2 linked regions of the Homo sapiens genome follow. The protein of the gene in region 1 purifies or fractionates together with the protein of each later gene. This does not show direct contact. Each region holds a gene or a part of one and is shown on either strand. Other genes may lie near its edges. The genes, in order: RUBCNL and CERT1.

Region 1 (3,825 bases):
GAAATAGAGATACATGTGGGAGTTGCCTGCATGCACAGCAATGGTATTTACAGCCCTGTAATTGACTCCAAAGTCTCCTGTTCACCACTGTGCAGGGTGAATGTGGCATAGGCCACCCTTCTATCTCTAGGCCTTCCCCTGTCTCTTCTTGCTTTTTGCTGTTGAAAGTTGCTTTTAGCTTCACAATGCAGAGGGCAGTGGAAGAACAGAAAAGCAAAACATTTCCCGAGCCTGTAATTACAGTGACAAGAGTGCTTCTTGTTTGTGTAGCTCTCAACATTTTAATCATTACGTCTTCACTAAAGCTAAAATCTGAGCTTAGAAGTGAGTGGGTTTTAAAGATGGGTTCTAGATTCATACTGTGTTCTTTAAATGTTATGAACTGAGAATACATTGATACTGATATTATAAGTATGAAAGGTAATATAAGTTACATGAAGCAAAGTCTTCAGTGCTATGGATCATCCCTCTGTTTTATGTACCACTTTGCCTACTTTGTTGAAACACAAGAACAAACTAAATGAAAATAAGAACATATGGAAATGGCTGGGCGCAGTGGCTCATGCATGTAATCCCAGCACTTTGAGAGGCTGAGGCGAGTGGATCACCTGAGGTCAGGAGTTTGAAACCAGCCTGGCCAACATGGTGAAACCCCGTCCCTACTAAAAATACAGAAATCAGCCAGGCGTGGTGGCACGTGCCTGTAATCCCAGCTGCTCGGGAGGCTGAGGCACCAGAATAGCTTGAACCTGGGAGGCGGAGGTTGCAGTGAGCCGAGATGGCCCCACTGCACTCCAGGCTGGGTGACAGAGTGAGACTCTGTGTTTAAAAAAAAAAAAAGAAAGAAAGAAAATGTGGAAATGTGTCTTTACTTCCAGATAGTATTCCTGTCTTGGATTTGACATTTAATTTTATTAAAATAATTTTGATGCATGGATGTTTTACATTTTTATGGGATTTATCAGTTGATCCTTTGTGATTTCTTAATTTTATGCTTTGAAGAATGTTTCCTCTCCCAATGTCAAGCCTCTGTAGGTTTACTGCTAGTTTTATGGCTGATTTATTTATTTTTTCACTTATAAATCCAAGCGGGCTTTACTATGTTGGATAGAGCCAAGTACAGACTTCTAAATTTTTTGGGTTTTGCCATCTCAAAATAATTTGTAGCCAAAATACAATTGAATTCTTACTTATTTTGAATGATTCCTTGCTCATTGCAGAATAGCTCTCCAGACCCCCAGCTGGCCATGTGGTGAGTTCAGGGCCCAAATCAAGTAGTACCAGCAATCAGGGAACTCCTATCTGTTTTGAATGGATTCACACCAGCCACAAGCCTGGAAAGATGGTGTCACAATCTACAGTCAGGCAGGATTCTCCTGTGGAGCCCTGGGAAGGGATCAGCGATCACTCTGGCATTATTGATGGTTCGCCCAGACTCCTGAACACTGACCATCCTCCTTGCCAATTAGACATCAGGCTCATGAGGCACAAAGCTGTCTGGATTAACCCCCAGGATGTGCAGCAACAGCCGCAGGACTTGCAATCTCAGGTGCCAGCAGCAGGGAACAGTGGGACCCATTTTGTGACAGATGCTGCCTCTCCCTCAGGCCCTTCACCTTCGTGCCTCGGGGACTCCCTGGCAGAGACAACGTTGTCTGAGGATACCACAGACTCCGTTGGCAGCGCTTCTCCCCATGGCTCGAGTGAAAAGAGTAGCAGCTTCTCTCTGTCCTCAACAGAGGTACACATGGTCCGCCCAGGATACTCTCATCGGGTGTCTCTGCCCACAAGCCCTGGGATTTTGGCCACCTCCCCATATCCTGAGACTGACAGTGCTTTTTTTGAGCCTTCCCATCTGACATCTGCTGCTGATGAAGGTAATTTTAGTAGGTGACCTCCCTCATTCCTCTCTGTTCACACCCTTGCTTCGCCTTGCTCTAAAGCCTGCCTTGTTGTCTTCCCCATGGGACAATGCATTGCCTCATCTAATATTGTCAGCAGCCCAGCCATCTGGGCGGTCACAACAGGTGAAATCAAATATTGGCTTTCTCCTTAGACTGCAGAGAATTGTTATCTTTTTAGCTTAATGTAGTTGATAATCAGTGCCATGTGCCATCTTTAAGCTGGCGTCTGCCTTCAGGAACTTAGAGCTCATTAAATTGTCTACAGGGGAGAGCATCGGAAGCACTCTCAAGTCAGTGTGGAGGTTGGAGGTGTTTCCAGACAGCCACGGGGTCTGCATTTCACACCAGTACCTAGTAGGTGGTGAAGTCACTTCACTTGTTATATTTACCTGTATAGAATCTGACAGGAAAATGGTAAGATTTTTAAACAATAACTACAGTTTCCCCTGAAGACTATACAAAACCCCTTTTTATTAAAACAAGGGCTCTCACTGCTATGAAGTAATGTACATATTCCTAAGACCCTAAAATTCCTAAAAATTGGATAATCCGTGCGAAGTACTACTCAAGAGTCAATAAATTAGCTATTATTGTTATAATCTGTGACATGTTTATTTCATTTTAAAATATTTGTTATAGTCACACTTGTCATTATTAATTTACATTTCTATTCAAACCCTAGTATAAATAATCAATGAAGCTTTTTCTTTCAAAGCAATTTAAAAAGTCATCAGTCTGCCTGCTGCCTGCCTGTCTATTTCTCTGTATATTTATTTCTCACTAGCAGGAGCTCATCTTCCCCCTTACCTAAAATATGGAGTTTATGTGTTCTTTTGGAAATGTTTGAGCAATCAAAGATGATGACAGTCTTTAACACATTTATTCATTGCTTAAGAAGAACAAATTTTGGACAATCTTTCAATGGTTAATTTTGAGATAAGGACCAAGTTTGAGCAAAATGACAAGACTGATTACAGGCCTTTTTTTTTTTTTTTTCCTATTTTTTTGCTCACTTGCTTGGATAGTTCTAAGGATTAAGAGTGACTTGCAAATTTAGTAGTGGCTAAGTGAGAGATTAGTCTTAATAGATTGTCTTATAGAGGAAAGCCCTCTCCCCAACAGAGAACCACCATAATGACAAGTTATAATAAACTGAAGATGATCTTTGGGGCCTAGCATACCCTTGCCTGAAACTTTTTATTCTATCATGGTACAGGAAGTAGTTCTACAATTTAAAATTATCCTTTAGCTTTTTCTTTTACTCAGAAAGAAAACAGATACCCCAGCCCCTTTTGCCCAAAGACAAGGACTCCCAACAGCTCCTGTCAGTGCCTTTAGAAACAACTCACGGAATGTTTTGAGAATATCTCTTAAACTCAGTAAGGGGATTCATTCTTTAAGATTAAGAAAAAGAAGCCTTGAGTGATCTGGTTCTTTCTTTCTCTGGTGCGGAGGCAGCAATAGGGAAAACAGCCATTGGCCACTAAGATGTGGACATTCCTATGACCGCTGCATCTCAGATGGCGGCAAAAGGGTTTTCTTTTTTCAGAAAATACTTTAGGGAAAGACTATCGGCCTCTGTAAGCATTTCTTAAGGCTGTAGGAAGGGATTCCACAGTTTATTTTGTTGGCATAGGAACTACACATTTACAAGCACTTTCACCTTCCTTTATCTCCTTAGTGTCCTGATAAATATCCCAATTTAAGGGCTGAGAGCGTTTTGATGCAGAGGCACAGCTGGTGAACGGACAGCTGGAACTGGAATCCACTCTGTTCCGATTCTTCTCTGTGCTCTTTCCTCTATACTCAGAGTCTGCAAACTATGACCTGTGGACCAAATCCTGCCAGCTTCCTGTTTTTATAAATGAATTTCTCTTGTGTCTATAGCTGCTTTCTCACTACAGCGGCAGAAGAGAGTGGT
Region 2 (3,825 bases), on another chromosome or scaffold:
CAAATAAAAGATATTTCCACCAACAATGAAGAACAATACAAGGTGTACTTTTAGTAAACTCTGACATTAGCTTACCTTTTGGACAAATCTATGTGTCCCCACAGAAGAAAAGGCATCTCCAGAGGGCAAGGATGTAGGCCAATGTAATCTCACCTTTTCACTCTGTGACTAAAAAAACATATAATATTAAGATGGGAAGGTTTTAAAGTGTATTTTGTAACTCAAGAATGGATAATATAACCTGGAACTACCAACATTCACTTAGTGAACGCCTTAGTGCTTATAACCATTAGAATTATGAAACTACTCCGCAGACATGGCAAATCCTGATACTTGCCTCAGATATCCCAATTTAACCTCTTCTTTCTGACTCCACAGATACTATGTTAGGCAAGGGATAAGTTCGTTGATTTTGCTCCTAGTCAGACTCCCTGCTACCTGCATAGCATTATTTATCATGGGTCAATCTTAACGCTGCTGCCAATTCTCTCCTATCCAAACCCTGGCCAAATCATTCCAATGATTCTACCTTAGCAGGCCGCCCCTGGAAGGCTGACTCACAGGTTTATATATAATTAGAAATAATATCATTGTTTGCTTCAGTTATGTTCCTAAGAACATATCATGTATATCTCTTTGCCTCCTCTCCATGAAGGTATTCTGCCCTTCATCTCATCATCTTACTCCTGTTAAGCTGCCACTTGCCCTTCTTCCTCTTTAGTTTGCCTCAGTTGTTCTCATTTATTTCAACCAACTGCTAAGATCTCATTTCTCATGCACCAGTTTATCCCATGTATCTTTCTTTCCCTATGTTTGCAAGTAACGTAAACTCAAACATGTGTGATGTAAGTGTCACTTGGAGAATATCTATTTAATGGCTGTGTTGTTGAGAGATCTGTGCAATATACACTGAATATGAAGAGGGAAATGATCTAAATCTATGGAACTGATTTTATGGATTACTGAAGCTCTCACTACTCTATAGAGTATTACCACACTGTATCTCTGTCATATCAACATGCCTGGCTCTTAGGCAAGAAAAACAATGCTCTGTTCAATGACTATTTTGCAGAGCATCTAGTACAGTGTCAAGAATAGAATGAAGTTGATTGGATGGCCCCATGAATATTTCTTTTTCTAAAGCTTACGGAAGGGTTCATCAATTCTCTCAAACCCAACTCAATCACCATACTGATATTCAGTAGAGTAGCATTTTAGAGAGAAGAGATGTTTTGAATCATCTTGTCTCCTTTGTTTCACAGATTAGAAAACCAAGGCCCAGAGAATTCAGTGATAAGTTCATAGCTACAAAGTTAGTTAGAGGTAAAACTAAGAGTAAGACTGAGGTGTCTTGACTCATTCACTACTTTTTCCCAAAACAGCACATCCTAGACAAAAAACTAAGGGAAACAAATAAATAATGCTACTTCAGGTAGTACTTTAGGTTTCCAAAAGTAGAGCCCATTTAGGAACTAAAAGTTCCCACTCTTCTTGAGTGGTACATAGCATCTTTTGGGTATAAAAAAAATGAGCAATAAGCTTTACAAATTAATGTGACATGAACTTTTTATCAGTAATTTTTAAAAAAATAACGAAAGATACACATGAGAAGCAGTTACTACTGCAGGTGATTTACCCTTAGGTAGACCAATAAGAGCATAATAGCCATGACTGTCTTAGCAATGATAAGAAACGAACAAGCCAACTTTTCTATGCAAATTCATTTGTAGTATAAAACTGACACATACATGATTATTTGGCAAGATACTCTGTAGCCACAGTTTATTAATACTTGCCCCCCAAAAAGGTTAAGCTTCCACCATAACTAGCATAGCTTAAACAAGGGGAGGAAATAACAAAATTCATCCTTAAGTACCATCTAGTTGTAACGTATGGTAACTGTACTGTTGCCAAATTAAAGAAGACAAAGTATCAAATTAATCTTGAAGCTAGTTAATGGGTTTAAGAAATACTTTTCTTCAATTTCCACAGCAGCTGGGTGTAACTGCTATACACTCAATAATGATGACAAAACACTGAACAAAGCAAAAGTGAGAAAGAAACTGAAGGTGAAGTAGTGAAGGTAATAAAGGGGTTAATAAAAACAATACTAATATAGATGAAAAACCTTAAGTTTTTGGTCATCTTCCTTTTCATATCATACTTGGTGAAGAAAAATTCAAAGAAGCTTTTTACTTAGACTAAATATATGCTTTATATTAAAAGAATGTTTTAAGCTGGACACTTAAAGGGAAATAAGCAAAAAGAGCATTTCTATTTAAGTTCATGTTAATTACGCATGGTTCCTTTTAACAATTATTGGTTTTCTTTCTATTGCTTGGAAATTCACATATAAAGGAACTGACTTATAAAGATTATTTTACGGCCAGTACCATGGCTCATGCCTGTAATCAATCCCAGCACTTTGGGAGGCTGAGGCGGGTGGATCATGAGCTCTGGAGTTCGAGACCAGCCTGGCCAATATGGTAAAACCCCGTCTCTACTAAAAACACAAAAAAATTTAGTCAGGCACGGTGGCGCGCACCTGTAGTCCCAGCTACTCGGGAGGCTGAGGCAGAAGAATCGCTTGAACCCAGGAGGTGGAAGTTGCAGTAAGCCGAGATCGCGCCACTGCATTCTAGCCTGGGCAACAGAGCGAGACTCTGTCTCAAAAAAAAAAAAAAAGATTATTTTACATTTGTGACTCAATGTATTCACAGTTAAGCTTCTAGGTTATTAAGTTCACAATGTTCAAATTCTATTTACATGAAATAATATACACCAAGGAATGCCTATAGTGTTAAAATAAATTTCAGCTTAGAATTTTCAATAATAGATATACCTGTTCTTCTATTTTATCTTGTCTGTCAAGAGCAGCTTCAACAGCATCAAAGAACTCTTCTTCATTAATCAGACTGTTAGGGCCTTCCTATTCCAACACACAGTGGAGAAAAAAGCAGTTTATTTAAAGAAACAGAAAACTCTGATAACTCTGGTATTAACTTGAGTTTGAAAATTGACCTAATAAACATTTATTGAACACATATTTACAAAGCAGTCAGTATACTAGATCATATGCATGCTCTGTGTAAAATCACGAGTGTTACAATTAATTCACTCAGTACTCATATATTTACTTACTGTATATTGACCAATATTGTGTTGGGATAATAGTCTAGAGCAGAGATTGGCAAAAACTATGGCCCAAGGGCCAAATCCAGTCTGCTGCCTACTTTTGTACAGCCTGTGAGCTAAGAATTTCATTTTTAAATGGCTGGAAAAAATAAAAGTAATAATATGACATGTGTGAATTACTTGAAATTAAAAGTTTGGTGTCCATAAAGTTTTACTGGAAAACAGTGATGCTCATTCAGCTATATATTATCTAGGGCTTCTTTAGTAGCAGAGTTGAGACTTATGACAGAGACAACAGAGATATAAAATTGCAATGAGGTAAGTAAAAATTTGCACAAGAACTATAGCTAATAAGTACGGCTAGGCATTCAGAGGCGGATCTTCCTAAGCACAGGTAATTGTTTCATGGGGAAATAAAAGTTGAGTTGATGCTTGATAGTCTGGCTAGATGGCAGAATAATGGCCATCAATCACTTGGGGAATTGTGTGGGAGACTTCTTACAATGAAAATTCCCAGGCCTCCATGGCCAAAAATTATTTCTTAGTAGGTCTTCAGTGGAACCTTGGAATATACATGTTTAATAATTCCCTCAAGTGATTCCCATGCAAGTGGAACCTCAGCTGCATCAGAAGATAAACATACAAAGAACAATAACAAAATGTAAACAATCAACATATGTTCCTGCTGTG

What was found.
Region 2: the proteins of RUBCNL (region 1) and CERT1 purify together in Homo sapiens (affinity purification with mass spectrometry; one large-scale study listed by BioGRID and IntAct). This does not show direct contact.

Annotation. Positions count from the first base shown.
Region 1 is NC_000013.11:46,369,993-46,373,817, reverse strand, and holds part of RUBCNL (protein associated with UVRAG as autophagy enhancer), read left to right. Parts: intron 1-1,220; 5' UTR 1,221-1,342; coding exon 1,343-1,877; intron 1,878-3,825. UniProt on the Homo sapiens protein: Regulator of autophagy that promotes autophagosome maturation by facilitating the biogenesis of phosphatidylinositol 3-phosphate (PtdIns(3)P) in late steps of autophagy.
Region 2 is NC_000005.10:75,400,130-75,403,954, forward strand, and holds part of CERT1 (ceramide transfer protein), read right to left. Parts: intron 2,930-3,825; coding exon 2,843-2,929; intron 169-2,842; coding exon 76-168; intron 1-75. UniProt on the Homo sapiens protein: Shelters ceramides and diacylglycerol lipids inside its START domain and mediates the intracellular trafficking of ceramides and diacylglycerol lipids in a non-vesicular manner.